Regions from separate parts of the Homo sapiens genome. Here all the other regions are linked to region 1. Evidence: fine-mapped expression QTL. A gene starts in region 1. Each other region holds a variant in brackets. All regions are shown on one strand. Distances are from middle to middle. Region 1 holds the start of SUCLG2 (succinate-CoA ligase GDP-forming subunit beta). Region 2 overlaps SUCLG2 (succinate-CoA ligase GDP-forming subunit beta). Region 3 overlaps SUCLG2 (succinate-CoA ligase GDP-forming subunit beta). Region 4 overlaps SUCLG2 (succinate-CoA ligase GDP-forming subunit beta). Region 5 overlaps SUCLG2 (succinate-CoA ligase GDP-forming subunit beta). Region 6 overlaps SUCLG2 (succinate-CoA ligase GDP-forming subunit beta). Region 7 overlaps SUCLG2 (succinate-CoA ligase GDP-forming subunit beta).

Evidence for each region. PIP is the estimated chance that this variant, and not a neighbour inherited with it, causes the effect. A credible set is the group of variants that fine-mapping cannot tell apart.
Region 2: its variant is the best candidate, but not a certain one, in a credible set for the expression of SUCLG2 in subcutaneous fat (GTEx, PIP 0.71).
Region 3: its variant is the best candidate, but not a certain one, in a credible set for the expression of SUCLG2 in NK cells (Gilchrist 2021, PIP 0.85).
Region 4: its variant is the best candidate, but not a certain one, in a credible set for the expression of SUCLG2 in nasal epithelium (TOPMed, PIP 0.74).
Region 5: its variant is the best candidate, but not a certain one, in a credible set for the expression of SUCLG2 in whole blood (TOPMed, PIP 0.77).
Region 6: its variant is the best candidate, but not a certain one, in a credible set for the expression of SUCLG2 in lung (TOPMed, PIP 0.75).
Region 7: its variant is the best candidate, but not a certain one, in a credible set for the expression of SUCLG2 in breast (GTEx, PIP 0.74).

The regions. Positions count from the first base shown.
Region 1 is chr3:67,652,305-67,656,826 of GRCh38, reverse strand. It overlaps SUCLG2 (succinate-CoA ligase GDP-forming subunit beta), which reads left to right and starts at 2,215. Exons shown (of 11, transcript NM_003848.4): 1 at 2,215-2,324. The coding sequence starts at 2,241. SUCLG2-DT (SUCLG2 divergent transcript) reads right to left here and starts at 2,130. Exons shown (of 7, transcript NR_109992.1): 1 at 1,725-2,130. RefSeq lists an enhancer at 1,909-2,408 and a silencer at 1,924-2,603.
Region 2 is chr3:67,438,348-67,442,869 of GRCh38, reverse strand. All of the region lies in intron 9 of SUCLG2 (succinate-CoA ligase GDP-forming subunit beta), which reads left to right. Among named protein-coding and RNA genes, the nearest start is that of SUCLG2, 210 kb to the left of the region's middle. The variant G/T (reference allele first, on the strand shown) is at 2,816.
Region 3 is chr3:67,521,274-67,525,795 of GRCh38, reverse strand. The region is part of intron 4 of SUCLG2 (succinate-CoA ligase GDP-forming subunit beta); the gene reads left to right. Among named protein-coding and RNA genes, the nearest start is that of SUCLG2, 130 kb to the left of the region's middle. The variant A/G (reference allele first, on the strand shown) is at 2,486.
Region 4 is chr3:67,479,520-67,484,041 of GRCh38, reverse strand. All of the region lies in intron 9 of SUCLG2 (succinate-CoA ligase GDP-forming subunit beta), which reads left to right. Among named protein-coding and RNA genes, the nearest start is that of SUCLG2, 170 kb to the left of the region's middle. The variant T/C (reference allele first, on the strand shown) is at 2,598.
Region 5 is chr3:67,487,516-67,492,037 of GRCh38, reverse strand. All of the region lies in intron 9 of SUCLG2 (succinate-CoA ligase GDP-forming subunit beta), which reads left to right. Among named protein-coding and RNA genes, the nearest start is that of SUCLG2, 160 kb to the left of the region's middle. The variant A/G (reference allele first, on the strand shown) is at 2,690.
Region 6 is chr3:67,413,933-67,418,454 of GRCh38, reverse strand. The region is part of intron 9 of SUCLG2 (succinate-CoA ligase GDP-forming subunit beta); the gene reads left to right. Among named protein-coding and RNA genes, the nearest start is that of MIR4272, 190 kb to the right of the region's middle. The variant G/C (reference allele first, on the strand shown) is at 2,806.
Region 7 is chr3:67,446,092-67,450,613 of GRCh38, reverse strand. The region is part of intron 9 of SUCLG2 (succinate-CoA ligase GDP-forming subunit beta); the gene reads left to right. Among named protein-coding and RNA genes, the nearest start is that of SUCLG2, 210 kb to the left of the region's middle. The variant C/T (reference allele first, on the strand shown) is at 2,752.

The sequences.
Region 1 (4,522 bases):
TCTGTGCACCTCAGTTTTCTCTTCTGCAAAATGGGGATTGTACACTTCTACTCATTTAAAACTTTGCTATGAAGACTAAACAAGTTTATATTTGTCTAATGCTTGGCACACATTCAGTAACTTTGCTGTTGTTTTTATTATATGCACATTGCTTAGACTCGCGTAAACTCTGTGAAAGGGAAATAATCTTGGGACTCCCAAATCACTAAGGTAAAGGGAAAAGTTAAGGTGGGAACTGCTTAGGGCAAACCTGCCTCCCATTCTATTCAAAGTCATCCCTCTGCTCACAGAGATAGACGCACAGCTGATTGCTTCCTTTGGAAAGGCCAATCAGAAACCCAAAAGAATGCAACCCTTTGTGTCTTATCTACCCATAACCTAGAAGCCCCTCCTTGCTTCCAGTTGTCTCGCTTTTCTGGACCAAACCAATGTACATTTTACATATATTGATGTCTCATATCTCCCTAAAATGTATAAAACCAAGCTGTGTCCTCCACCACACCTTGGGCACATGTCAGGACCTCCTGAGGCTGTGTCACAGGCACGTGTCCTTAACTGTGGCCAAATAAACTTCTTAAATTGATTGAGACCTGTGTCAGGTATTTGGGGTTCACAGCTCCAAATGAATGTTGCTTTTATCACTCTGATTACTGGGCTTAAAATCCTCCAATAGCTTTGTGTCCGGAATTGGTTCCTTCCCGTGGGTTCTTAATCGTCTCGCTGACTTCCAGAATGAAACTGCAGACCCTCGCGGTAAAGATGGCGTGACCAGAATTTGTTCCTGCAGATGTTCAAATGTATCTGGGGTTTCTTCCTTCCGGTGGGTTCGTGGTCTCGCTGACTTCAGGAGTGAAGCCGCAGACTTCACAGTGAGTGTTACAGCTCTTAAAGGTGGCCCGTCCGGAGTTGTTTGTTCCTGCCTGTGGGTTCGTGGTCTCGCTGACTTCACGAATGAAGCTGCAGACCTTTGCAGTGAGTGTTACAGCCCTCGAAGGTGGGGCATACGGAGTTGTTCATTCCTCCCAGTGGGTTCGCAGTCTCCCTGACCTCAGGAGTGAAACTGCAAACCTTTGTGGTGAGTGTTATAGCTCATAAGGATAGTGCGGACCCAAACAGTGAACAGCAGCAAGAGCTACTGCAAAAAGCAAAAGCACAAAGCAACCACAACCTGGAAGGAGACCCCAACTAGGGGCCACTACTGGCGCCGGTGTCCAGCTTTTATTCCCTTATTTGGCCCCACCCTCATCCTGCTGATTGGTCCATTTTACAGAGTGCCAATTGGTCCATTTTACAGAGTGCTGATTGGTCCCTTTTTAAAGAGTGCTGATTGGTGCATTTACAAACGTTTAGCTAGACACAGAGCGCTGATTGGTGCGTTTTTACAGAGTGCCGATTGGTGTGTTTACAAACCTTTAGCCAGACACAGAGCACTGATTGGTGCATTTACAATCCTTTAGCTAACAGAAAAGTTCTCCAAGTCCCCACCTGATTAGCTAGACACAGAGGGCTGGCTGGTGTATTTACAAACCTTTAGCTAGACACAGAGCGCTGATTGGTGCATTTACAATCATTTAGCTAGACAGAGAAGTTCTCCAAGTCCCCAACCGACCCACCCGGCTTCATCTCTCAGCTTTACATTGATTTTAGGTTAAGGATAGAACAAAACAAAACACCCACAACTCCTTAAGGGATGGAGAGCCTCCAATGGCCTCTCCTTGACTCACCTGAAGCCCTGGGCTGCAGGAACCTCACCTGTCTCTATTCGTTAAAGTCTCAGCTCAAACACCACTGTCCCAGATAGGCCTCGTGACCGCAGGACTAGACCACGGTTCTCTGCGGAGGGCGTCAGCTCCGTGAGCCACCCTTCCAGCACCCACTGCCATGGCGAATATTTGCTTGTTTGGCCATCCAGGGACTGTTTGAGCCCCAAGACCGCAGGGCTCGGGGTCTGTCTTTGCTCAGGACGATAACCTGGGGACTGGACAGTAGGCCCTCAGGCCTTGGGACCGCTCAAAGTGAACCGGGGCCGGGTGGGGGACCCAGGGCTCTGCAGCCTTAAGAACGCCTGTGCCCCCGGGACGCAGGGGTCAGGCCCGGCCCGGCCCAGACCGCCTCTGCCTCCTCCTCCTTTTCCTCCCCGCGCCCGCTTCTCCTCTGACCCCTCCTCCCGCTGCTCCTCCTCCGCCTCCTTCCCCTGCCCGCGCCCGCCCTACTGCCCCGTGCCGAGTTTCCTGTTTAAGATGGCGTCCCCCGTAGCAGCGCAGGCCGGGAAGCTTCTGCGAGCCCTAGCGCTGCGGCCCCGCTTCCTGGCGGCCGGGTCCCAGGTGAGCGTGGGGGCAGGAGCTGCGGGCGCCAGCAGCGGCGCCGGCCTGCCCGGGCTTCCCTCGCCCCCTGCTACTCTTGGTCTCCGCCTGACCCCCTGCGCGGCCCCTCGGGCGCCCCACTTCGGGAGGTGACGCGGCGCCGGGTCCAGGCGCAGCAGGGAACCCCGCTCCAGTGTGGGGCAGGGGCGGCGCGGCGGCAGCCCCGGGTGCCTCGGGGTATGAGCGACCCAACGCACTAGAGTCTCCGCTGTCTGCCCGCGCAGACTCATGGCGAAGGCGCTGAAGCAGGCGCTGGACGCAAGTTTAAGAAAAGTTTCTTGGACCGGGTTTTGGAGCCCTGAGGTTTTATTGTCAGCTCTACTAATTCTGCTTTTCAAACTTCTGGCACTAACCCTGAGCACGTTTAGACCACGTGATAAACATGCCTGGAAACCCGTTTCAGCCCAACTAGGAACTCACCCCCTAGGGTGAACTTCCTGCAGGCTACCTGCTTTTGCAGACTTTTAATGTGCCTGAGTTGGTCAAATCCGTGGGTCAAGGAGAAAAATGGGAAACGATCTTTCTCCTCTTTCCAATGAAAAATCAGGGCTGTCACTAAAACGCATTAGACCATTGACCCTGTCCATGTCCTCCTTGTTGATGGAGAATGAAATCAAAGAGGGTCAGTGGTGGGCTGGATAGCGATTGGAACTTGGCCTCTAGCAGATTTTTACCTTCTGCAGATGGCAAGCGTTAAAATAGTCAGAAGGACTTCAGGAAAGTTTTGAGTTGGTGATGACTCTTGTAGAAATCACTCAACCACTGAACTGGTTAGTCTCCGTAGACTATCTCTCTTCCCTTTTAAAGAAAGCACAGTCTGGGATTCAGCCACAGCAGAGTTAATGACCTTGCCTATTTCCCCATTTTTAATTGATGAGAGGCAAATTATCACTCATACAATTTTAACCAGGATGTGCATAGTATAGTTTTTTAGAAAATTTAAAAAATAGTGATTAATGATTTTTTGAGTTCCTCTAAACTTTGGTTATGACATCTGTGAGCTATTTTTACCCCTCTCCTTTCATTTCCTGCCTCCCCATTTCTCTGTTATTGTTAATGTAAATTTAAAAGGTGCTAATACTTACTACTGTAATATTCTTAATAGGTGCTTGACAGTATAGTGAGGTAGCAAAAGGAATGGCAGTTTTGTCTAATTAAAACTCACTAATAACTGTTGTAATAGAGTAAGGAGAATAGCTCTAGGAGATGAAGTCCTATTCATTATTTAAGTGTTAGAAAAAACAAGAACTAGGGTGCTTACCATGAGTGTAGACTTGAATTGATGAGAAACATGGGGCCCAGGGCAGTGAAAACTCATGAATTGTACAGAGAAACTGAAAATGCAGAGTGTTTAGCTGAAATATGTGAAGCCTACTTCCCTAACCAAGAAATAAGAGGCTGAACGCAACACAGGAGAAAATCTGGTTGGGGAGAGATACTCTTGGTTTGTCAAGAAAACTGGGTAAAAAGATCTGTTAGCACGCCCCATCTGGTTACTGTGATTTACATATTTGTGGATGATGTGTTTTTCTGTAAATTCTTAGAAGGTAAAAGTAGGTTTTTTTAAAGATAGAAAGGTACACAGTGTCCAAGAACTGGAAATGGACATTAGCAATCATTTAGTCCAGCCAGCTCATTTCATGGGTAGAGAAATTGAGGCCTAAAGAAGTTCAATGACATATTCAACGATACAGTGAGAGTTTGTGGCATTCCAGAGTAAAGGCTTACCTTTACGTTTCCGTTACACCATGCTGTTTCCTGGTGAGTATATACTTCCTCATGAAAATATATTATATCAACATGCAAATTAATCTGCATGCCAGTAGTAACTATATAACATCCAAGTCATTAGCACCACTGACACATTTTTATTTTTTTCTTTATGACCATCTTAGAATTGTCCATAAAAATGGTGAGTATTGCTATTTTCAAATTCTTGGGTGCTTCCTATGATCTGTTTCATGTACACTGATTTGATATTACGTTTCCATAGTCCCTTGCCCGTGGCAGACATTGCAGTTAAACATGGCCCACTTCTCTCATCATACTTAAGAATCCTCACCAAGTGTCTCAGAAATCTGTTGCCACTCTTGGCCCAGACCTATTTTATACCACCAGGCCTTGTGAAAAACTGTTGTCTGTACAGAAATAAAAGACCC
Region 2 (4,522 bases), 210 kb after region 1:
TTTTATTTTGTCTGAATTCAGTCTGGGAAATGATTAATTACAGGGCAATATTTCTTGTCAAGTTGTGAATAAATATGTTTAGCATTAGTATAGATGTTTACAAACAAGAAAACTCATACTGCTTGCCAAGCAGTTGATTAAAAAATGCATTCAGTTCACCACAAAGTCTCTGTAGGAAAAATCTTTACATTTGTATGGGTTGGCATTTAGTAATTAAATCTCTAAATATTTTGATTAGGCTGAAGGCCACCCAAAGTCTTTGGTCATATCTGAAAAACACTTTCAGCCATCAGTAGGAACAAAGCTCTAGGACAGCCACTGTCATTTTCACAGGAGTCTTAAATCTAGAGCAGTGTGCATAAGAATCCCCTGGAAAGCCCTTTAGAACACAGATTCTTCAGCCCCACCTTTAGAGATTCCAATTTAGTAGCCCGGGGTGGGGACGCAAAATGTGCAGTTGTCACTAGCTTCAGGCCAATACTGATGCCGCTGTTCCAGGTACCATAGTTTGAGAACCACTGTTCTGGGGATTTCAGTTGTGATTTGAAAGTAGACAGCCTGGCCGGGCGCGGTGGCTCACGCCTGTAATCCCAGCACTTTGGGAGGCCGAGGCGGGCGGATCACGAGGTCAGGAGATCGAGACCATCCCGGCTAAAACGGTGAAACCCCGTCTCTACTAAAAATACAAAAAATTAGCCGGGCGTAGTGGCGGGCGCCTGTAGTCCCAGCTACTTGGGAGGCTGAGGCAGGAGAATGGCGTGAACCCGGGAGGTGGAGCTTGCAGTGAGCTGAGATCCCGCCACTGCACTCCAGCCTGGGCGACAGAGCGAGACTTCGTCTCAAAAAAAAAAAAAAAAGAAAGAAAGTAGACAGCCAGATTGATGAAATCAACCCTTTTTAAAAAGGCTTTTGCTTGACAGGTATTTTATATATTTCAGAACAAGATACTGATGGGAAAGAAAGATGGCAAAGTGTTTTCTGTAAGATTTGGGAGGAGGAGCAGATGGGAAGCCAGTATGTTTGCCCTTTTATTTCTCTTTTCATTAACAGCAGTGGGGAAATATTCTGAGTTATTTTTCTTGGTTCCTTTCATGCCCTCTCCTTCTTTCCTAACAGCAAGTATGTTGGAAGTGGCTTGAACTCTGCCACTTCTAGCAATGTCATCTTGGGTAGATTACTGTATATGTTAGTTATCTGTATTACTTTGTAACAAAAGATCCTAAAGTTGAGCAACTTAGAACAACATCTATTATCACTCCCAGTTTTTGAGGGTTGGAAATACAGGAGCAGCTTAGCTGGGTTGTTCTGGCCAGGGGTCTCCCATGAGGTTACAAACTGTTGGTTAGGGATGCAGTCTCAGAAGTATTTGGAGTATGTTTTCAAGCTCACACGCAGACATATTTGCAGGAGGCTTCAATTCCTTCCCATGAGTCTCCATAGGGCTACACATGACAAGACAGGAGACTCAACACAACACTGAAGCCACAGTCTTTTTTTTTTTTTTAAGTTCTGAGATACATGTGCAGAATGTGCACGTTTGTTACATAGTTATACACATGCCATGGTGGTTTGCTGCACCCATCAACCTGTCATCTACATTAGGTATTTGTCCTAATGCTATCCCTCCCCTAGCCCCCCAGCCCCTGACAGGCCCCAGTGTGTGATGTTCCCCTCCCTGTGTCCATGTGTTCTCATTGTTCAACTCCTACTTATGAGTGAGAACATGCAGTGTTTAGTTTTCTGTTCCTGTGTTAGTTTGCTGAGAATGATGGTTTCCAGCTTCATCCATGTCCTGCAGAGGACATGAACTCATCCTTTTTATGGCTGCATAGTATTCCATGGTGTATGTGTGCCACATTTTCTTTATCCAGTCTATCATTGATGGGCATTTGGATTGGTTCCAAGTCTTTGCTATTGTAAACAGTGCTGCAGTAAACATAAGTGTGCATGTGTCTTTATAGTAAAATGATTTGTAATCCTTTGTCTATATACCCAGTAATGGGATTGCTTGGTCAAATGGTATTTCTAGTTCTAGATCCTTGAGGAATTACCACACTGTCTTCCACAATGGTTGAACTAATTTACACTCCTACCAACAGTGTAAAAGCATTCCTGTTTCTCCACATCCTCTCCAGTATCTGTTGTTTCCTGACTTTTTAATGATCGCCATTCTGAATGGCATTAGATGGTATTTCACTGTGGTTTTGATTTGCATTTCTCTAATGACTGGTGGTGATGAGCTTTTTTTCATATGTTTGTTGCTGCATAAATGTCTTCTTTTGAGAAGTGTCTGTTCATATCCTTCACCCACTTTTTGATGGGGTTGTTTGTTTTTTTCCTGTAAATTTAAGTTCTTTGTAGATTCTGGATATTAGCCCTTTGTCATATGGGTAGATTGCAAAAATTTTCTCCCATTCTGTAGGTTGCCTGTTCACTCTTGTGATAATTTCTTTTTCTGTGCAGAAAGCTCTTTAGTTTGATTAGATCCCATTTGTCAATTTTGGCTTTTGTTGCCATTGCTTTTGGTGTTTTAGTCAGGAAGTCTTTGCCCGTGCCTATGTCATGAATGGTATTGCCTAGGTTTTCTTCTAAGGTTTTTATGGTTTTAGGTCTTACATTTAAGACTTTAATTCATCTTGAGTTAGTTTTTGCATAAAGTGTAAGGAAGGAGTCCAGCTTCAGTTTTCTGCATATGGCTAGCCAGTTTTCCAAACACCATTTATTAAATAGGGAATCTTTTCCCCATTGCTTGTTTTTGTCAGGTTTGTCAAAGATCAGATGGCTGTTGATGTGTGGCGTTATTTCTGAGGGCTTT[G/T]TTCTATTCCATCGGTCTATATATCTGTTTTGGTACTAATACCATGCTGTTTTCGTTACTGTAGCCTTGTAGCATAGCTTGAATTCAGGTAGTATGATGCCTCCAGCTTTGTTCTTTTTGCTTAGGATTGTCTTGGCTGTATGGGCTGTTCCTGGGTTCCACATGAAATTTAAAGTAGATTTTTCTAATTCTGTGAAGAAAGTCAGTGGTAGCTTGATGGGGATAGCATTGAATCTGTAAATTCCTTTTGGCAGTATGGCCATTTTGACGATATTGATTCTTCCTATTCATGAGCATGGAATGTTTTTCCATTTGTTTGTGTCCCCTCTTATTTCCTTGAAGAGTGGTTTGTAACTCTCCTTGAAGAGGTCCTTCACATCCCTTTTAAGTTGTATTCCTAGGTATTTTATTCCCTTAGTAGCAATTGTGAATGGGAGTTCACTCATGATTTGGCTCTCTGTTTGTTATTGGTGTATAGGAATGCTTATGATTTTTACACACTGATTTTGTATCCTCAGACTTTGCTGAAGTTGCCTATTAGCTTAAGAAAATTTGGGGCTGAGACAATGGGGTTTTCTAAATATACAATCATGTCATATGCAAACAGAGACAATTTGACTTCCTCTTTTCCTATTTGAATACCCTTTATTTCTCTTGCCTGATTGCCCTGGCCGGAACTTCCAATACTATGTTGAATAGGAGTGGTGAGAGAGGGCATCCTTGTCTTGTGCCAATTTTCAAAGGAAATACTTCCAGCTTTTGCCCATTCAGTGTGATATTGTCTGTGGGATTGTCATAAATAGCTCTTATTATTTTGCGATATGTTCCATCACTACCAAGTTTATTCAGAGTTTTTAGCATGAAGAGGTGTTGAATTTTATCAAAGGTCTTTTCTGCATCTATTGAGATAATCATGTGGTTTTTGTCATTGGTTCTGTTTATGTGATGGATTACGTTAATTGATTTGTGTATGTTGAACCAGCCTTGCATCCCAGGGTTGAATCCTACTTGATCGTGGTAGAAAAGCTTTTTGATGTGCTACTGGATTTGGTTTGCCAGAATTTTATTGAGGATATTTGGATTGATGTTCATCATGGATATTGGTCTGAAATTTCCTTTTTTTATTGTGTCTCTTCCAGGTTTTGGTATCAGGATGATGCAGTCCTTATAAAACGAGTTAGGGAGGAGTCCCTCTTTTTCTATTGTTTGCAATAGTTTCAGAAGGAATGGTACCAGCTCCTCTTTGTACCTCTGGTAGAATATGGCCGTGAATCCGTCTGATCCTTGATGTTTTTTGGTTGATAGGCTATTAATTACTGCCTCAATTTCAGAGCTTGTTATTGGTCTATTCAGGGATTCGACTTCTTCCTGCTTTAGTCTTGGGAGGGTGTATGTGTCCAGGAATTTATCCATTTCTTCTAGATTTTCTAGTTTATCTGTGTAGAGGTGTTTGTAGTATTCTCTGATGGTAGTTTGTATTTCTGTGGGATCAGTGATGATCTCCCTTTTATCATTTTTCATTGTGTCTATTTGATTCTTCTCTCTTCTTTATTAGTCTGGCCAGCGGTCTGTCTATTTTGTTAATCTTTAAAAAAAAACAGCTCTTGGATTCATTGATTTTTTTTGGGTGGGAGGATGAGTTTTTCATGTCTTTATCTCCTTCAGTTCTGCTCTGATCTTAGTAATTTCTTGTTTTCTGCTACCTTT
Region 3 (4,522 bases), 130 kb after region 1:
TTGATGAAGTCCAATACGTCAATATTTCCTTTATGGATTATACCTTTTTAGTATCAGGTCTAAGTCCTCTTTACGTTGCCCTACATAATAAAAATTTTCTCATGTTTTTTTCTAGATGTTTTATAGTTTTATGTTTTATATTTAGGTTTGTGATCCATTTTGAGTTGACTTTTGAATAAGTTGTGAGACTTAGGTCAAGGTTATTTTTTAAGGGGCAAAAGGGCTATGATATTCAATTACTCCTGCACCATTTTTTGAAAAGGCTTATCTTTTCTCCATTGAATTGCTTTTACATCTTTGTCAAAATTCAGCTGGGCATATTTCTTTGGGTCTGTTTTGGGGTTCTCTGTTTTGTTCCATTGATCTTTGTGGCTGTCCCGCCACCAATATCACAGAGTCTTAATTACTGTATTTATATAAATTCTGAAATTGAGTAGAATAACTCTTGTCACTTTATTCTTCTTTTCCAAAACAGTTTTACCTGTTCTAGTTCCTATACCTTTTTATGTACAATCTAGAACAATTTTATCTTTACGAAAAAATCTTGCTAAGATTTTGATAGGAATCTTATTAAACCTGTATATGAATTTGGAGGGAATTGGTTTTTTGTTATGTTAAGCCTTGCAACCCATGAGTATGATATGTCTCTCCTTCTTTTAGGTCTCCTTTGATTTATTTCATCAGCATTGTATTGTTTTCAGCATATACGTTTGGTATATGTTTTGTCAGTCTTACACATACATTGTTCTCTTTTAAAGCAATTACAAGTGGCATTGGATTCTTAATTTCAGTGTCCAACATGCTCATTGTTAATTGGTGTTGATTTCTTTTTAAATGCTTGGTGAAGTTCCCTAGTGAAACCATGTGAGCCTGGAGATTTATTTGTCTGTGCCTGTTAATGTTTTTGGGTTGCTGGCTTCTCTAGCACCCAGCACCCTGCCTGAGATTTATGAGGCCAAAGAAAACATAGGAGACTCACTACCATACGCTTCCTTGGACCTCAAGCTCCCTAGCTAGTCTCCCTTCTTCTCTATAACTTTCAGAGTCACCTTAAGTTTTATGTATATATATGTCCAAGGCTTTTATTTGTACTTAGCGGGAAGAATAGGGAAAAACATGTCTACTCCATCTTCTCAAAAGTATAAGTCCCCAGATTATAGAACCTTTTGATTCTAAATTTATTTCAGAAGCTATTTAAACACATACACACATTTATACACATCAGATATTTGTTTTCTAAGTCTGTGCCAATGTGTTATGTATTCCTGGGGCTAGTACTAGGGCCTGTGAGACAGTGCTACTCATCATGCGGTCCAGGATTCAGTACCAATAGTGGTTACTGCTCTGTAATCAATTTAAAATTCGAGAATGTACTTTTAATCTTCTCTGTTCATGGGTGTGTTACAAATAGTTTGTACGCTAGCACTCATCTCCTGACCACAATTCCAGTAGCATGATATTTTTAAGGAAACAGATTCAGCAGTAGATAGGTCAAAGAAAGTTAAAAAGCTTTCTATACTGGTGGACTCCACAAAGACGATGTGTCAACATATTCTTTGTGTAACTCACAGGTGAAGCTCTTTTGAAATGTTTCTAATGGAGTTGCTCCGGGATGAGTGTTTGTGGATTCCATTTAGATTTCTCTGTAACACTTCCTAATATACTCTGTCATCCTCGGTCATTTGGAAGGCATGACGATGTCAACAAACTGGTCTTTGTTGTATAAAATTTCTTGAATTATCTCTTGATAATTATCATTTTCCTGGTGACATTTTCTTAAAGAGTCATGCATTATTCCTGTGAAGCAAGAGCTGTTTCAGACAGTAGCTGGGCTTCACAAATAGAAATTTGGTGGAATACAGAGCACGTCTGTCAACATTTTTGAAGATTAAGAATAGGACTCTTGAATGACACTTATCCTAAAAAGTTATAATTTTGTGTTGCCTCTAAGAATAACTACTGAAAGTCATTAAGTATTATTCTCTAAACTAACTCTGCATTAGAAAATGAACAGTATTATGCCAGTAGACCTGAAAGCATATACCAAACACACTCCTCATTTTGTATTTTGTGCCAATCAAATTTCTTAAAACAGCTTTCTCTTCTAGAGAAAGTTTTAGAAGAAATGATTATCTTAATTTCTTAAAATGTTTGTATTAATGTTGATGCTTAGAAAGGCAGACTTTATGTTATTTCTATAAACGACAAGTTGTTACTGTATTTTATAAGGAAAGAATAGGGCTAAGTATTTTTGCTTCAAATATTGTCCTACCCCTCAATCAGAAATTCTGAAAGAATTTACGGTTTCAAGCAACCTGAAGACTGGGAGAATTAGGCACTGACTGATGGTTTGACCTTCATTGTTGGTGAGAACAACCAACTTGAAATCAGAATGGTTCTGTGCTAATTCTAACACCATGTGCTGAGAAACAGTTTTTATATACTTATGAACTTCCATTTCTGATAAATCAATATGAAGACCTAT[A/G]TATTTTATTTTTAACTAATGGTAAATTCAACAAAAGTTTGAAAAAGAGGAGTTCTATATTCATTCCATTATAGCTTTTTAGATCATTATATATTTATCCCATTTCATGTGACCTAAAACTTAAGTGTTTTTGTGGTATCTGAGTAGTTAAAATCTAATGCTACTTAATCTGTAACTTTTTTTTGTGGAACCCATCACTAAACTACTTGTAAAAAAAGCAATGTGGCCGGGTGCGTTGGCTCACACTTGTAATCCGAGCACTTTGGAGGCGGAGGTGGGCGAATCACGAGGTCAGGAGATTGAGACCATGGTGAAACCCCGTCTCTACTAAAAATACAAAACAATTAGGCCAGGCACGGTGGCTCATGCCTGTAATCCCAGCACTTTGGGAGGCCGAGGCGGGCGGATCACGAGGTCAGGAGATTGAGACCATCTGGCTAACATGGTGAAACCCCGTCTCCACTAAAAAATACAAAAAAATTAGCCGGGTGTGGTGGCGGGCACCTGTAGTCCCAGCTACTTGGGAGGCTGAGGCAGGAGAATGGCGTAAATCTGGTAGGCAGAGCTTGCAGTGAGCCGAGATCGCGCCACTGCACTCCAGCCTGGGCGACAGAGCGAGACTCTGTCTCAACAAAAAAAAAAAAAAAAAGAAAGAAAAGCAATGTTAGTGCTTTCATTGTTTTCACATCTATTACTGATTATTTATGGGATTGTTTTTATATTCTTTAAACATCCAAGATATCTTTCACTGTTCTTGTTAGGTGCGTAAGTTGGAACAACCTCTCTCAAGCACTTTGACAGTACTTATCAACATTTTAAATATTCACAGTTTAAAACCTAGACATTTCACTTTTAGGATACTTATCTACAGGGATACTAAAAGAAATGAACAAAGATACATGTACAAAAATACTCACTAAAGTAGCATTTTAGGAAAATTGAAGTTCATGTAAATGTCTGTCAGCAGGCCAGGCACCATGACTCATGCCTGTAATCCCAACACTTTGGGAATCTTAGGCGAGTGTATTGCTTGAGTCCAGGAGTTTGAGATCAGCCTGGGCAACATAGCAAGACCCCATCTCTACAAAAAATAAAGCAAAAATTAAGTGGCTATGGAGGCACGTGCCTGTAGTTTCAGCTACTCAGGAGATTCGTTTGAACCTGGGAGGTCAAGGCTGCAGTGAGCCACGATTGTGCCATTGCACTCCAGCCTGAGAGCAACACAGCAAGACCATCTCAAAATGAATAAACAAATAAATAAATAGATAAATAAATAAATAAATGCAGGAACATGGTTAAATAAATATTGTCATATAAATACCATGTAATCACAATGAAGAGAGAAGACCTTAGAAAGATATTTAAGTTGTAGTATTAAGATTTTAAAAAAGAGGCCAGGCGTGGTGGCTTACCTCTGTAATCCCAGCAGTTTGGTAGGCTGAGGCAGGTAGATACTTGAAGTCAGCAGTTCAAGACCAGCCTGGCCAACATGGTGAATCCCCATCTCTACTAAAAATACAAAAATTAGCCAAGCATGGTGGCAGGCACCTGTAAGCCCAGCTACTCGGGAGGCTGAAGCATGAGAATTGCTTGAACATGGGAGGCAGAGGTTGCAGGGAGGCAGAGGTTGTAGGGAGCTGAGATCGTGCCACTGCACTACAGCCTCAGTGACAGAGTGAGACTCTGTCTTTTTTTAAAAAAAAAAAAGATTAAAAAAAAGAAAGGCATCCTGTTGTATATAATGTGCTTCCACATGTAGGATTATTCCATTACTGCAATGCTTGCAGATACATAGAAAAGGACTAGAATGTCAGCAGTGGTTTTTCCTGGTGGGGCTGTTACATGAAATTCAAGTCCTACAGAGCAAAAGGACACCTGGCTGAGGCAGTGAGTCCCCACTCACTTGTGGAATTGAATGACATTCTTCCATCCCACTTGTCCCCTGTCTAGTCATGGCCCTGGCAAATGACCACATATTCCCAGAGGAAGGGGTGCCTTTTTCTAGTTATCACGGAGGTTCCTGGTAGGCTCGTATCT
Region 4 (4,522 bases), 170 kb after region 1:
AAACAACATATAGGTAATTCTTTTAACAAATAGCCAGTACCACCAATCCCACACTAGTGCAAGGGCCAAACTCCATTCATGGCAAGCCTCCTGTAAGCCAAAGCTTGGTTCTAGGGAGACTCAAGTACCAGGCAGATAACTAAGCCAGGAACTCAGCCATAGGTACAAGTCAGGGTGTCAACCATGAGCTCAAGATTCATTCCACAGCAAGAATGACTTGAGTAGGTAGGGGGGTGTTCTCCAGCATGTCAGGGGGCAGCTCTGCAAAGACCCCTTTGTGAAATCAGTTACTAGTTCCTCAGACCACAGAATGACTAAACTGGATTAAAAGCCATTTAGAAACATCAGCCAAACAAGAATATATTAAGTGTCATCCCTGCCAGGCATTCTTATAGGCACTGAGGATAAAGCAGTGAGTGAAATACATCTCGTCTTGTTCACTGGAGGTGCCATTTTAAAGAGGATAGAAAATCGTTTACACTGGTGAGTAACTAGTAAAAGAAAATTATGCAATATATCTGCTGGTGCTGTCTGCTAGTTTGAAATATAAAAATGAAAGGGGGCTTGAAAATGCCAGGTGTTTGTTATTTCTGATAGATTTGTCCAAGCAGACCTCTCTGATAGTTGACCTTAGAGAAAGAAATGTCATCGCCGTTCCATGATTTGGAGTTGGAGTTTGTGGGTAATGACATGAATGCTATCAATGAAAGAATCTGCCCCTCGGAGTTGTCCTCCTTTCTCTTGTCTTGACCTACCAAAGTGTTCTGAGCAATGTTGCTTGCTTTATTACAGATTTTTTTTTTTTAAGTTTTGTCCACTTAAATAGTTTACGCAGCAACTTTACCCTAATTTGGGTGGCAACTCTCTCGCAATTAGAGGTCCTTTCTGAATATCAATGGATATTTCATCTGCATACCCAGGAACCTCTCCTGAGAATGCTTCATTTCCACCTTTGAGGTCTTCTGAAATGGAGCACTGCAAACACACATATTAGCATTCCCAAGGGCCATCTGGTACAAATCCGAGTTAATTATTTTTCTTCCAGCTTATCTGTGGGTTTTTTCATTAATTGTTATCTCTAAGTATTCTGGACACATCCTTTTTTCTCAATTAGAACTCAATAGAAAGTTTTTGAGCAAACGTTTAGGTGTCTGCTCTAATACTGAAAGGCCTGAAGATCGTAAACAGCAAGCAGAAAATCCATTTGGAGCTTTAACCCTTGACCTTCTAGGTTTCACTTGCTCGTTAATCCCAAGTAGCACATTTCTCTGAGAGGGAGACAAAAGTGACTTAGAATCTTCCGTGTGTCATTATGATCCAAGAGTCTTGGCATTTGGGTAGCAGGTGTGAGAGAAAACACCAAAATCACCTCATATTTAGATGATTTCTGATATTTTCTGTGTTTTATAACCTGTGATCAGTAGTTGCATTTCATGAGTGGAGCCTTCTTCTCCATTAAGCTGAACGACCAAATAGTTAATCCAAATGCTGACAGTGCTGACCAAATTCCAAAGAATAGATATTTGGTATTCAAATAAGAAGGGTGAATGAAGCTAAAGTAAAAAAATACAAAAGTATAGAAACATGAAGAGAACTTATACTGAAAGAACAAATTCTTTGATTCAGTTTTTCTATACAGGTACTTCCTTAAAGGCACTGCCAATTGAAAGTTGCACCAATTTATCCTACAGTGTGAAATACCTTAAATAAGGTATAGGACGGAAAGTGAAGCCCCATCAGCATACTATATTTCTCTTCTAGTGGTTACAGCTTGGTATTTCTGCATCCAGCCTGCAATCAACAATTCTTTCTTCCTTCCCTCCCTCCCTCTCTTCCTTCCTTCCTTCCTTCCTTCCTTCTTATTGAGATAGTCTCACTCTGTCACTCAGGCTGGAGTGCAGTGGCATGATCTTGGCTCACTGCAACCTCCACCTCCCAGGTTCGAGGGATTCTCCTGCCTCAGCCTTCTGAGTAGCTGGGACTACAGGAGAGTGCCACCATGCCCAGCTAATTTTTGTATTTTTTAGTAGACACAGGGCTTCGCCTTGTTGGCCAGGCTGGTCTCAAACTCCTGACCTCAGGTGGTCCGCCCGCCTCGGCCTCACAAAGTGCTGGGATTACAGGCGTGAGCCACCACGCCCTGCCAACAATTATTTCTTGAGCACCTACTATGTGTCAAGTTAGGAGCTAATCGAGAAAGTAGGAAACCATCCGATATTTGATGCTATTGGTTCCAATGGGGCTTTCCTTATCAATTTTTTTCTGATTGTAATAATCTCTTTAAAGCAGAGAAAGGTAGGTACCTGAATGACAGATGTAGTCTTTTCTGCAGTCTTTTTAAGGCTCAATAAAAACCCAGTATAGAGCAATATTATACTTAAGGTCACATACCAGTCTCTAGGTTTACTGAGATTTGTCTGTGAAGGCTTACTAATCAGAATGTCAGCCATGGACTGTCAGTGTTGACAACAATTTTTAAGCTGTTAGAAATGCACAGTCTGTGTTTTCATGGGATCTCCAGGTGATTGCTGTGCACGTTAGAGTTTGAAAAGCCCTGGTCTAAAGTAGGGACAGACAAACTACAGTCCATGGCCAAG[T/C]CCTGGCCAATGCCTGTTTTTGTAAATAAAGTTGTACCGGAATACAGCTGTGCTCATTCACTTTCTTAAGGAGTTAAGAAGTTGTGACCAAGAAGTCCTGGTCCACGTGGTCTAGAGCAGTAATGCTCGAAAGTGTGTGGTTGGACCCATGCCAGTTTATGTACCAGTGCCTGTTTGTGAGCTGTTTTAGGTTTGTGATAAGTACAGATACTGAGAATAAGCATTTAGAAACTTGTATTGCTAATTACCCTTGCCATGACATGCAAGAGGAATATCAATTTTTTAGTAATTTGCATTATTACATTTTATAATAATACAAGTCAATGAGTTAGGGAATTATTTTTAAAAATTCATTCATCATCACAGATTATGTAAGAAGCAGCACTCTATGAGTGTAGATGATATGTTTGTAAAAAAAACAGTGTCATAAGTGAATGTGATTGTACATCTTGATGCCAAAGTGAACTTCCTTATGGGCTGCGGTAATCACATTGTCCTATTCTTTGCTCACCCTGCTTTTCCATGAATCTTCCTCTTGTCTCTTTGGGGATACTTCCTTGACCTTGGTGATGCTGTAAAATGTGATGCCTTCTTTCTCTCTGTATGTCTTCACTTGGATCCTGTCTTCCCTAGCTACTGCTCACAGAGTAAGCTTTCGCCCAGGCCAGGCCAATTGCTTTACTGCATCCCTGCCATTGTAGGTTACTTTCAGGGATGGTCTCTGGCCACAAGTCCCTCAAGCTAGTTAGAACCTTCCCCAGGGGTTTTCTGTGGAAGCTCATGAAAGAGGCCACCTACCTCTGGGATCATGAAAGAAAATAATGTGGCCCAGGAGGCTACATTCCCTAGTAGCTGGTGAAAGCCTGTGTAAGCTCCAGGAGCAAAGCTCCTGCCATGCTATGATGGAGGCTCCTGCCATCATAGGGCTTAGTTCCTCTAGCCTAGGTTTCCATGACTCCATGGTTTTCAAAAGTGTGGTTGGACTAGCAGCATCAGCATCATCTGGTAATCTGTGAGAAATGCAGATTCTTGGGCTCCACCCCAGACCTTCAGAGTCAGAAACTCTGGGATGAGGCCCCGGAATCTGAGTTTTAACAAGCCTTCTAGATGATTCTCGTGTTTGCTTGCATTTGAGAATGTCTACTACAGCTCTATAGCTCCTCCTTATTTCTGTGAGTTACTTTAGCATCCTTCCCAGGTGTAAGCCAACTGGTTCCCTTTAACCCCTTAAATTAGAGTTGATTTTCGGTCACTGACAACACAGAAAGTCCTGTTTCACATACCATGAGTACTATTCTTAACCAAACCGAGAATATGCCTCAGCACACTCTTGCGTCCTATGGTGGCCCAGAGCTCACCTCTGTTAACACTTATTTTTATTTCCTTCCCCATACGCTTTATAACCCCTTATATTTGAAGATTTTTATTCTCTTCTATTTCTGTTTCAAAATCTGTCCCTGAAATGCAGAGGACTGTATCCATTCTAAAGTGACTTTGTTACCCAGATGAGAATTAAGGATAATCTTCCAGATAATAGGTAGAGTTCATCAATGTGGTTTGTAAATGCATTTTTCTAAAGATCAACTCCCTCATGGAGGACTTTTATTTTCCTTCTCTCCAAAAGTAGACTACATCAAGTTGTGTAATTTTTAAGTGACTTTCTATAAACTTTATGAAATTACCTCATCTTGAGCTCAGTCATCGAGGTAGATCTAATTCATTTTTGTCCCCGTTAAGTTACCATCAACTGCTTCTTTTCACAAGAGATTTCTTTCCTATTACTGCTCTTCGTGCATTTAATCACTCTTAGCGCTTTCTTTCCGCCTCTTGATTTATAAGTGTTTTGCTGTGATTCAGTCTCCTGTCTATTCTTGCTACAGAGTACAACCTTCATTTGTTATCTGTGTTCCTTGTGCTGTCTGGGG
Region 5 (4,522 bases), 160 kb after region 1:
TGAAGAATGGAAGGGACTCTTAGTGGGATTCTTATGCCAGACTGCCTGGGTTCCAGTCTTGTCTTTACCAGTTACTGGTTGTGGGACCTTGGGCATGCTATTTAACTTCTGTGTGCCTTGGTATCCTCGTTTATAAAGTGGTAATAATAGCAGTACTTACCTCAGAGGGTTGTTTTATTACACATATTGAGACACACACGCACACTTTTCATTTAGAGGGAAAATAATTTCATATGACAGTATCATTTAAAAAATTTAATAAACTTATTAAAGTATAATCTCCATACAGAACAGTATACAAATTTTAAGTATACAGCTTGATGAATTATTACAAAGTGAACATATCATCTAACCTCCAGCCAGATCAAGAAATAGAACATGGCTGGATGCGGTGGCTCATGCCTGTAATCTCAGCACTTTGGGAGGCCGAAGTGGGCAGAAGGTCGGGATTTCAAGAGCAGCCTGGCCAAAATGGTAAAACCCCGTCTCTACTTAAAATGCAAAAATTAGCCAGGCGTGGTTGCAGGCACCTATAATTCCAGCTACTTGGGAGGCTGAGGCAGGAGAATTGCTTGAACGCAGGAGGCGGAGGTTGCAGTGAGCCGAGATTGTGCCATTGCACTCCAGCCTGGGAGACAAGAGCGAGACTTCGTCTGGAAAAAAAAAAAAAAAAAAAGTAAAAGAAAAAGAAATAAAACATAACAGGGATCCTGGAAGCCTCCTCCTCATGCAGTCCCCATCATTTTCCTACCCTGCTTTCTCTCCACAGGTAATTTCTTTTCTTTTCTCTCTTTTTTTTTTTTTTTTCTTCTGACTTAGCCTCCTGAGTAGCTGGGACTAAAGGCGTCTGCCACCATGCCCGGCTAATTTTTGTATTTTTAGTAGAGATGGGTTTACCTTGTTGCGCAGGCTGGTCTCAAACTCCTGATCTCAAGGGGTCCTCCCGCCTGGGCCTCCCAAAGTGCTTGGGTTACAGGCAGTAGCCACTGTGTTCGGCCCTCAAAGGTAATTTCTAATATCACAGATTTGTTTTACCTATTTTTAAACTTAATATCACTGGAATCATGTACTGTATACTCTTTTGCATTTGTTATCTTTTACTTTACTTTTGCTACTGGTTAGTCTTTTCAATTTTAGTCATTCAGGTAAGTATGAGGCATTATCTCATTATGGCCTTTCTGTCATGACTAATGAGGTTGAGCACCTTTTCATGTATTTATTAGCCATTTGAATATACTCTGTAAACTTGTATTACCTCATCTATAGACATGAAAATAATACCTTAAAGCATTGTTTTAAGTACCAACTTGCAAACCTTTCTAAAGCATAGTGAAAACTTTGGCTTTTTATATTTTCTGAGTGTTTCATTCCATTATCACTTCCAAAACTTAGATTTAGAATAAATGCACATCTCAGAAATGGGAGGTGTCTGATACAGGTTCAGTGATAATCAGTGTTACTTCATGTGTTGTTTTGAAATTGATGGAAGGTGTAAGTGACTCAGCTTACAATGATTCTCTACTCAGACAACCAAGGAAACAGTTAATAAAGGGAGGATTAAATTCATGTTTGAAAGAAGAACAAAATATAATTTGTTATAAATTTGAGAAGAGGCCAGCTCTTTTTGTGCTCTATGGTATATGTTTCAGAAACTTTAGAATGTGAAGCCAGAGAAGTAAAACTGCATGCCATATTTTCAGAATCAGGTATATGCAAATGCCTTACGTTTTAATATATTTTAGGATTCACTTGTGCTGTCTCATATTTTTAAATTATTGCACATTTAGAGTTTATTTAAGTACAAAGAAGAATATCCTGTTTTCTTTCAGATACATGCGTATAACTGAGGCACAGAGCTGTTTAAACTTAAACTGAGGTGCCGTAAAATTGTCAGGAGTTGATTTGAATAACCAGTGATTCACGGATTGAGCAGCTCCAAACCAAAAGTGCTTCCAGGGCTCCATCAAAAGAATGTGAAGGGAAGACTTTTATAGGGCAAACACGAAAGTAAAGCAAAGAAAATACTGGATTGGTTACAGTTATACTGTTGCCTTATTTGGTCTATCCTCCTGGAAAGTTCTAGTTATGTAACCATAAGTTAGATAACTAGAACTTTCTGCTTCCAATTGGTTAGCCTTAAGTTTCATTTTTCTGTAACATAGGCATTTACAAGAAATAGCTCAAGTTTTGTTTATGTCTGCAAATCAAGCAGAGTTAAGATCACTTATGAGGCCTAACTGGCTTTGTCTGCTCAGAGATTCTTCAGGTCTGGTGTCCATTTTAATTTATTGTAACAAAGCAAAACCCATTTCATTACACACCACATGTGTTTGCTGAAATACCTTATCTGCAAGCGACTGTTTTCTTTGTAGGGAAGTAGAACTCTTGTAGGAATTTATTTTCGAATATAGTGCTCAATACTTTATACAACACAAGCATTATTTTTGAAATGACTACCCTGCATTTCTATTCTTGCAGGTTTGCTTGAAAATATGTATTTTTTTCATATAGAGTGGAAAAGATTAAAATTCCAGGCAGCCATTCTTTCTAGTGGTAGTCGACCTGATAGTCTAGTCTGTGGAGAATGATTAATTTTGTGTTGATCAGCTGGTCATTTAGTCTCCACTTCCACTTAGAATAGCTCTTTATTTAGGGAAGTCACTCTGCATAAGCTAGAGGATGGAAAACC[A/G]TCTACCACTCTGGGCCCTTTTCTTTTTTCCCCCGGCAGTAGTTTTCCCAGTGTGAGGAATTCATAAATGTTGATTTTTGCATATCTTTTCCTGATGTCTAGTTAATTAAAATTTCCAAGAATATCTGGCCCTCCTTGCCCACCTCACATTTGTTCCATTTTACCTGCCAATACTTCTCAGTAATAAGTGGGTCCTGGTGACTGCATTTGGTTTTGTGTCTTCCACATGATCGGTGTATCTGCTAGCTACCACATTTTCAAACCATCCCTAATAGAACACTCAAAATCTATTTACATGCTCCTCACTGACATACCCTCAGAAACAAGCCAAAAATAAGATTTTTACTCTTTACTCTGTCTTCAAAATCCAGGTTTTAATGCAACCTACTTTGTTTTATGGTAAGTGACTTGAATAATTTAACAGATTTGGGGCTTAGTAAATTTTGTCGTTAGTCCCAGCAAGCTCCGGAATTGATTACGAGTCCTCTGTGTAGATGCCTTTGTAGAGTGTTAAAGAGAAATGGACCATGAATCAAAGTATAATGCCATATAGTTTGGAAAAATATATAATTATTAGAAGAGTTAGGGTTGTTGTTTTCCTTAATGTTATTGCATAGAGAAAATGAAGCATTGAATGCAACAATTAGAAAACAGTGCATTTCTCAGCAAGACAATCAATAATGGTCGGGAATAATGTCAAGAATCTCTGCATCTTAAGAATAATCTTATGTGGCAGGGCATCTGAAAGTTGTACTATTAGTATTTTTGAGATGTTACTTTAAAATTCAGATAAAGCCTGGTAAAGGCATCATTAGATGTGGGTAGTGAACTTAGGAAAATCATTCAGAAGAACAAGGCTGAAATCCTTTGGACTGATTCCTTTCCTGTATAGCAGAGGTGAGATGTAGTCTGGTGGGATGTGCCCCATGGATTCAGGAGATTGCAGATACTGTGAATCCTTTTTTTCCTCTTTCCATGCTGCCCCACCCACTGTCAGAGAATTAGGAATTAGGAAAGATGGTCTCATTCCTAAACGAGCAACATGTCCATATGGGCTTGCCTAAGAAATTGGCTCGACTTAGTAGTTTGCTAAATAGTCTTTTGTCCTTATTTTAGGTTATTTTATAAATAGTAGTCCCTTTTCCTAATTATTAAAATAAGGACAAACAAAAGAGAAAATTATAAAATAGATTACACAGATATATTTATATATACCTTTTTAAAAAATATATATATATACACACACTAGTTTTGACAAAACTAGACTTATATCATATAATTGACAATATTATATAGTCTGCTTTCTTTCTTTTTTTTATGTGTTTTGCCTGTCCTAGTACAGTTCTCTATAACATTTTCAGTGGCGGAATGGTATTTACTTGTATGGATATACAAGTTTACTTAACCTAGTGCTCTGTTATTTGATATTCAGGGTGTTACAAATTTAAAATAATGCCATGAACCTCCTTGTTCTCATAACTTTACATAAAGCTGGGATTATTCATATAAGATAAATTCCTAGAAGTGTAAGGGTCAAAATGTATGCACATTTTAAGGTTTTCACATGCATTGCTGAATTACCTCAGTAATAGTTGAAGGACTTGTAGAGGGCTAACATCAGTGAGTTGACTGCCCATTTATTTTCCCATGTCTTGGCTATCATTGCTGTAATTCTTTACCAACAGGAGAGGTAGCATTTTTAAATTCTTTTTCTTCTATTCAGCATTTGTAATGCCTCTTTATGACTTGCCTTTTCTTTTTTTTTGTCTAGTTTTCCATTATTACATAATTCTCACAGTGATTTAGAACACAGGACTCTGTGTGTGTGTTTGT
Region 6 (4,522 bases), 240 kb after region 1:
TGTGTTCAAATCCTTGTCTAGCCATTAATTAGCTGCTGATCTTGGCAAACTACTTCAGCTTTCTGAGCCTCAGTTTTCCTGTCTCTAAAAATAATGGTAATAAAATCATAGCTCATAGGAGTTTGGAAAGGGTTGAATTACTTATATGCCAGGTAAATAGTGAGTAGCAATAATTGCTGACTGCTAATAAGTACTTACCACTTGCCACGTACTGGGCTTAGTGCCTTATTTTAATTATCTCATTTAATCCTGGCACCAACCCTGCAAAGGTAGGTACTAATATTATTATCCCCATTTTAAAGATGAAGAAACTGAGGCCCAAAGAAGTTAGCTAATTCACACAGCTAATAAGTGATAGAGCCAGTGCTTTTGTTGCAGAGATCAGAATCAGAACCTACTGCATGGGTAGAATTTTACAGCTCCTCGAAGTCAGGATCATGTATTATTTATCTTTGTATCTTATGTCCTCTTTTTGGCCTCAGGAACCAGAACAGTATTTTGTTGTGTCAGATGAGGTCCCCCAGTATAAAGATTAAAGAATAACTTTCAAACAGCTATAGCCTCAACAATGCAATGGAGGGATGCAATGGGCCACCTTGCAAAGGAGGAAACTTTTGTCTTTGAAAAGGTTCAAGCTGCGGTGGCTGAACCCTCAGGTCCTGCCTAGCTCTAAGATTTTCTGGTTCATTCATCTCCCCGGCATGCCCACATTACATAAGGTGCCTTTCTCTGCTGGAGGAAAAGGGGAAAGAGTACACATCTGTGGGTTATGTGTTAAATCATTCAGCCTTCACTCTTACAAAGTAAAATCTCCTACTCAGGATCCTACCAACTATTATTGTCTACGTTTTACTAAAGAATCAGATTTTCATTTCCACTCCGATTTTTAGTTTTGAGAAACTAGTTCAGTTCCTTGTTAAAAAGTATTGTAGGCATCGTGTCGCACCATTATTAAGAAATGTATTTTACAATATGAATGTAGTGCTAGGTGAATTTATATGAATTATTCCATGTTTGAGAAGGAACCATTTGGTACTTGTTCTGAATACAGTTGTTTAAGGGAAGAAAATTGCAGACATGCAGTTTTGTTCCATCCCATTTCAAAACCCTTGGCCTTGTCTAGGCAGCTAGCAATGATGACTGCCTTGAAAATGAAATTACTGTGGTACTTTCTAGGTACTCCAGATCTTTAATTATTTCCAATATATTGCCAAATGAAACATTTATGAAAAAGCTTACAGTTACACCAAGTATCTTGAAAATTTACACTTACGTTGGTGAAACATCAAACAGTACAGTGTATGGTAGTACTATTTTTTTTTCTCTAGACAAGAATTCTCTTTGCTCTTTTTTTTCATGACTCATCCTTCCTTAACTCATCTTTCTTATCCTCTGAAGCTTTCTTTTCAGAGAATCAAAATAGCTTTCTTCATCTTTTTTTTCTTCACTTCACAAGACCTCCACTTTTGAATGGTAGGAATAAGGTTGGTTTTTCCACAGGAATTGGTTATAAATTCCTTCTCCATGCCGAAGTACACTGGCCTCTAGTGGATACCTGTCTCAGTTGTAGTTCATACTGATCTTGCCTTAATTCACTTATTGTAGCACTAAACCAGATATTTTAATAATTTTCAATAGTCTATATTAAGGAACACAATCAGAACTTTGGAGGGTTTAAAGTAGATTTTATTATGAAATTGATTAAGCTTTATGTGGATAGTCATATACTTAGCAATATATTTAACAAATTTAGATTATCTCCTGCAATTTCTTAAGATGTAATTGTGATGTTAACTCCACAGTACTTTTCATTTAACTCACATTGCACTTGAAGACTTAAGGCATATGTAACAGATCATTATAGAAATCAGCCCAACTTACTCATGTCAGAGAAATAAGATTCTAATAGGATACCAAATTGTCTCATATTCCCTGTACATAGTCCTGATTAAGAAAAAAAAGCTAGCATTTTCCAAAGCAGTATTATTATAGTGGGATTTTTTAAGTATAAAATTTAGGAAAATCATCTGTTAAAAAGTATAAATCTATGTCACTTCTTAGAACTTGCAGTTTAGTATATTTCAGTATGGCAAAGGATTAGTTTCAATTTTCATATGTGGTCATTAAATGGTAAAAGCATATACATTTTATTCAGCAATCTGCCATTAATTTAAATGTGAAAAATATTTTATTGAAAGAGCTACCTAAATTCTTATTCAAAACTCTGCCTATCAGTGAGCCAACAATTCAACCTTGAGTTTATTGATAAGTGACATCTGGTTTTGGTTGTAGGTTGGTTCTGCCTCAGGGTCTCTCATGAGGCTGCAGTCAAGAAGTATGCCAGGTTCACTGTCATCTCAAGACTTGATTGACTGGGGCTAGAGGATCAATCTGCTTCCAAAATGACTCACATGGCAGTTGGTAGGAGGCCTGAGGCCTTGGTTCCTTGCTGGATAGAAGTCTCTTGAGTGTCCGTCCTTATGGCTTGGCAGTTGGCTTGCCCAGAGTGAGTGATCCAAGAGAGAGAACAAATAGGAAGGAGCCCCAATACCCTTCATAACCTGGTCTCAAAAGTCGCACACTGTCATGTGTACCATATTCTGCTCATTAGAATGAATCACTAAGTACAGCCCATGCTCCAGAGGAGGAAGATTAAGCTCTACATCTTGAAGAGAGGAACATTAAGGGATTTGTGGGCATATTTTAAAACTACCATGGAAGGAGATCTTCAAGGGAGGATTTGTCTCATGTTTAAGGAATGTGTTGCATCTGGTGTATATAAAGGACATTTTAGGCTATGCCAAG[G/C]ATTTCAGCCAAGTTGGCCAGTAAGGTGACTGAAGGTGTTAGAGTAGAAGAGTATAAGGCAAACCATATGACACAGTAGATCTGGAGTCACATGAGGGTTTAGGATTATCAAATGTGTGGCTTAGAGGAGTTACCTAATGCCTCTATACTGTATGCCATCTGTAAAATATGGAAAGCAGTTACCTTCCTTATAGGGTCGTGGTGAGATATCAGTAAGTTAAGATAGATAAAATACTTAGGCAGTGCCTAGCATCTAGTAAGTGATTAAGAAGTGTTAGCTACTTCAGCCTTAGCATGATTGCTGTCATGTGTAAATTCATGTTGTATAACTCTTCAATCCTCGTTTTGTAGCCGGAGAAATCCTTGTGTCCTTCTCCAAACTTGCTTGGTTTCTTTTCTCTCTCTGTGTAGCTTTATTCTGCATTCCAACATTCACACATGTAACAGTTTTCCATTCGAATATTTCATTATATGCAGAAATATTTTCAAATTCTGGCCAAGCATGGTGGCTCACGCTTGTAATCCCAGTACTTTGGGAGACCTAAACAGGAGGATCACTTGAGCCCAGGATTTCGGGACCAGCCTAGGCAACATAGCGAGGCTCCATCTCTACCAAAAACTTTTTTAAAAATTAGCTGGGCATGTGGCAGATGCCTGTAGTCACAGCTTCTCAGGCGGCTGAGGTGGGATCACTTGAGCCTGAGAGGTCAAGTCTGCAATGAGCTGTGATTGCGACATTGCACTCCAGCCTGGGCAACAGAGCCAAGATTGCATCTCATAAAGAAAAAAGAAATAGAAATTTTCAGATTATTTGAGGGAGTGGGAAAATCCAAAAGTTAGAGAGGGTAGTGATAGTATCAGGAAAGATGCACTGGTTTGGAAAGCATCTTCTGGGATGTTGATACATCTACCTAGTTGTGGGAGATACACAGATTAAGCAGTAAGGACAGATGCTGCTCTCAGATACATTTTGTCTAGTAAGCCTAGTGTTTTTAAAAATCCAGAATTTTGGCTTTTGAAAACAGGAAAGATCTGGGCATAAAAGGCCTACATTCGCATGGCAACAATTGGATAGATTGTGTAGCAACTGCCCCATTTGAAAAGGCATGTCCTTGCTGGTATGTCAGAGTATTTTCTGTTGTCTTAATCTAATACCTCTCTACTCATTTACTTACCTGTCTGGCACTGAGTTTGAAACCACCCCTTCCAATTAAAATTAACACTCTGCAAGTCAGTTAGTCAATATAATCTCCCATAAGAAGTACCCCCAACATCAATGTACTCGATACATCTATAAAAACAGTCATTTGGAACTGTAACATGAAACTGGGATGGAATTCCTGTTCTCAAATCTGCCAAGGCAGAGATTACAGTCTTCTCAACTAGGTGGCAAGAACTTCGGAGTCGAGTTAGATGGCATAGTATGAAAGGGAACTCGTGTAGCAGAAATGGGCATTACAGGAAGCATCACCTACTCAAGACAAACAAAAAAATGGGAGATGCCCTCAGCTAGCCTTGAGCAACACAGAAGACCATCCAGGTTTCCGGAGTAAGAACTTTGACATGATATTCAAAGCAATCATGAAAATAAAAAGGTGGCAGGTCAAGACATTTACAAAAATATTTTTTTCAACCCAAGAAGCTTTTTTTTGATAGGACACAAAATAGACATTAAATAAGTTAAAAACTATTTTTTGGATTTAACATATTGGAAAAT
Region 7 (4,522 bases), 210 kb after region 1:
GGAAATACAGCAAATGCCAGATGATAGTATCTAGATGATGGGCATATAGGTGTTCACTGTTCAATTTTTTTCAACTTCTCTGTATACTTGAAAATTTTCACAATACAGTATTGGGGAAAATTGAGAAAGTGTATTCCCTCTTTAGTTCTTTTTCAATTCCAGAAAATCTCAAGAAAGTCTCTTGGTGCCAATATGGCTTAAACACTTTGCTTTGGCTCAGAGCCACTGGCAGCCTGTATCTAGTTACAATTTAATAAAACTATTGTACATTTTCCCAGGTTTGGTAGCTTGAGCCTGTAATTTCAGCCACTCAGGAGGCTGAGGTGACAGGATCGCTTCAGCCCAGGTGTTCGAGATCAGCCTGGGAATCATAGCAAAACCTCATCTCAAAAAAATATTTAAAAGTTAGCCAGGTGTGGTGGCACGTGTCTGTTGTCCTAGCTACTGGGGAAGATAAGGCGAGAGGATTGCTTGAGCCCAGGAGTTCAAGGCTGCAGTAAGCTATGATTATGCCACTGCACTTCAGCCTGGGCAACAGAGCAAGACCCTGTCTCTAAATTAATTAGTTAATTTTAAAAAAAATACTGTTTTTTTGTATTTTATTATCTTCAATTTATAGGAATTAATATGTTATTTTTCGTATTGATAGTGATACTGTTCTCTTTTCAAATAATGTATTTAAGCTTTAAAATATTCAGCATGGCCGAGTGCAGTGTCTCATGCCTGTAATCCCATCACTTTTGGAGGCCATGCAGGTGGATCACTTGAGGCCAGGAGTTCAAGATCAGCCTGGCCAACATGGCAAAACCACATCTCTACTAAAAATACACAAATTAGCTGGGCATGGTGGCACACACCTGTAGTCCCAGCTACTCAGGGGGCTGAGCGTGAGGATTGCTTGAACCTGGGAGGTAGAAGCTCCAGTGAGCGAGGTCACGCCACTGCACCCCAGCCTGGGCAACAGAGTGAGACTATGACTCAAAAATAAAATAAAATAAAAATAAAATATTCAGCAAATAGCAAACAGATAGTGTGCACTGTTGTGGTAAAAAAAAAAAAGGCAGAGGTATTATGTACATGTCTGATGACTGCTATAGGAAAAGGAGGATTATTGAAGAATTTGAAGTAAAGGACTGGACTAATTGTTTTGGAAGTTAAATTATTCACCCTCTGCTCTTTGTATGACTGCAGAATGAATATAGAGTTTTGGGCTTTTATAGTTCCTCTAGTCACTGTTAAACTTCAATATGTGACAGTGACTGCCTGTCTGCATGTTCAGATTTTCTTCACAAGCCTATGAAAGCAAAGATCCCAGATAAAGCTCATAGGCTTTCTAGTGCTTAAGATGTGGCACTCTTTACTTGCTTTTGGAAAACATTCACATATTTCCTAAAGGGGCAAGAGATATATATTCTTGAAATAAAATAGAGCCACTTAATCAGAGTGGTTTGCCAAAGGGGACTGCCTGTGGATTGGATTTTAATCTGTCTGTCACAGTCACCTTTTCTTTTTAGAATGTTCTTAATAGAATTTAGAAAACACCATAAAATACCTCACTTATATAAAGTAAATGTAAAATAATGTGTTTCTGTGAAAGCAAAAAAGCAAGAAATATTCAAATTCAACAGTGTTTTTATATTACTTCCATCTGTCTATTGTTACAATTCTGTGTTCATTACTATCTCAATGGAATTCAAAAGTTTTTTTTCACTACCAGAATCAACAGTAATAATGATAAGCAGTCAGAATAACTAGACTTTACCCACTAAAAGAAAAGAAAAAAAAACCTTTTTTACACTTGATTCAGAAATAGTGTTTTTTCATGCAGTTTAAACATTGTAAAAGTGTATTGTTTCCTAGTACCAGCTATATGTCCTTATGAACTTTCATATTTCTGATAAATTGTTAGAAGTAAAACTGCTAAAGCAACATATTAATATTTTAATTGTTATCTACTTTTTGAAACAAAAAGTAGCTGGTATCTCAGGTACTCCTGAGGTCGGGAATTTGAGACCAGCCTGGCCAACATGGCAAAACCCTGTCTCTACTAAAAATACAAAAATTAGCTGGGTATGGTGGCACATGTCTGTAATCCCAGCTACTCAGGAGGCTGAGGCATGAGAATCACTTGAACCCGGGAGCAGAGGTTGCAGTGAGCTGAGATTGCACCATTGCACTCCAGCCTGGGCTACAGAGTCAGAATTTAAGTGTGACTCTTCTCTGTTCCCCTTCTGATATGTTTACATGTCTCCTAATTTGTTCTTTAAATAAATGGACCCATCATATATGTATTCTGTGACTTACATTTTTACCTAATAGGTCTTAGATTTTTATGTTAATACAAATGAAACTATTTCATTCATTTTTATGACTGCATTCCATAAAATGAATGATAATGTATTACCAAGTCCCATCTTGATGGCTATTAAGTTATTCATAGTTTTTTGGGGATTTTTTTCATCCAGTGAATATCATCTATATATCCTTATGAACTTTTGTATTTCTGATAAATTGTTAGAAGTAAAACGGCTAAAGCAACATATTAATATTTTAATTGTTATCTACTTTTTGAAACAGATTTTCTCAGCCGGGTGCGGTGGGTCATGCTTGTAATCCCAGCACTTTGGGAGGCCTAGGCAGGCGGATCACCTGAGGTCAGGAGTTTGAGACCAGCCTGGCCAACATGGCAAAACCCTGTCTCTACTAAAAATACAAAAATTAGCCGGCCATGGTGGCACATGTCTATAATCC[C/T]AGCTACTCAGGAGGCTGAGACATGAGAATCACTTGAACCCGGGAGCAGAGGTTGCAGTGAGCTGAGATTGCACCACTGCACTCCATCCTGGGCTACAGAGCAAGACTCCGTCTCAATAAATAAATGCATTAATAATTGTCTCAATAAATAAATAAAATGGGACAAATTTTTTCAAGTTTTTATGAACTTTCTTTTCCATTGGCAAATATGTTGATTTGGAATATAGTTCATTAATTACCCAATACTTCTGTTGTGGGAGTCAAAGCTTCCTCCTGAAGTATCTTGTTCCTGTTTTCTGTATCCATTCAGTGTATTGTATTCTGCATTTCTCCTGCCCTCCATGACACACATTTTTCCATTTCTGTACCCCCAGATTGTGGGCATAATCAAATCAGAGTTGTACTGATTTTTGTAGCTACCTGCATCTATCCCAATGCCTGCCATGTAATAACTGCTCAATGAATATTGAAAAGATGGTAGGAAAAAAACTCATTCCTACACTTATAAAATCATATTTTCTATATTTAAACAGTCACTTTTTGGTAATGACTTGTTAAGACATTCCCTCTCATTGTTGGGGTTCAACTTTATAGTCAATTTTGTATTTAATTATAGTATTTTATGGTACTTCTAGTATTATTACAGTTGAGAAATGAGGTAGAAATCCTAGATGTTAGTAGGTAAAATGATTTTTTAAAATTAACTCAGTTTTATTGACCTTGAATTTTAGCATGTTTTTCAGTAGGTGATTCCTGTTAACATCTGCATTTTGACAACACACTTAAATAAAACTAGTGAACCAGAGAACAATGAATTTTCATCAGCTAATTACTAGTGATGATTTTAACCTGTTTCAAAAAACTAATGTTAACCTTTTTTGATTTTTAACCATTTTCTTCCTCAAACATAAAGGATTATTTAAAAATTTGCATCTTATTAAGGATTACATTAATGGAAGTATGCAATTAATAGATAATCTTTTTTTAATATGTCACAATTTAAAATAAAGTGAATAGTGATTATAGTGAATAAAGTGTGTAGTTATATATTTTTCTAAAAGTGAAATACCCTTTTAATGACCAACATTCTTTGAGTGCCTGGCATTGTTTTGCCTAAAAAGACCTGCACATGGCTGGGTGCAATAGCTTACGCCTGTAATCCAGGCACTTTGGGAGGCCGAGGCGGGCACATCACAACGTCAGGAGTTCAAGACCAGCCTGGCCAATATGGTGAAATCCCATCTCTACTAAAAAAAAAAAAAGAAATTAGCCAGGCGTGGTGGCAGGCGCCTGTAGTCCCAGCTACTCGGGAGGGTGAGGCAGGAGAATCCCTGAACCCGGGAGGTGGAGGTTGCAGTTAGCGGAGATCATACAACTGCATTCCAGCCTGAGTGACAGAGCGAGACTCTATCTCAAAAAAAAAAAAAAAAAAAAAAAAAAAAAAATGTACATATGTACATATTTAGATACCGGAGAGATCTAATTTCTTTTTTTTTTTTTTTTTTTTTATATACAAATGTTTATAGCAGCATTATTCATAACAGCCAAAAAGTAGAAACAATCCACTTTCCAAGGATGAACCTTGAAGTGATTGCCTAAATTATCCTTTTTACTTAGGCATTCACTTCCAAATCCAGCTGCGCATTGACATCACCTGGGAAGCTTATGCAGCTCCCTGGCAATCTTTGAGGATGGGATACCTGGATTAATGTTTGAATCCAGACTAGACGATCTCTAAGGTCCCTGATAGCCCCAAAACTTGTATAAAATC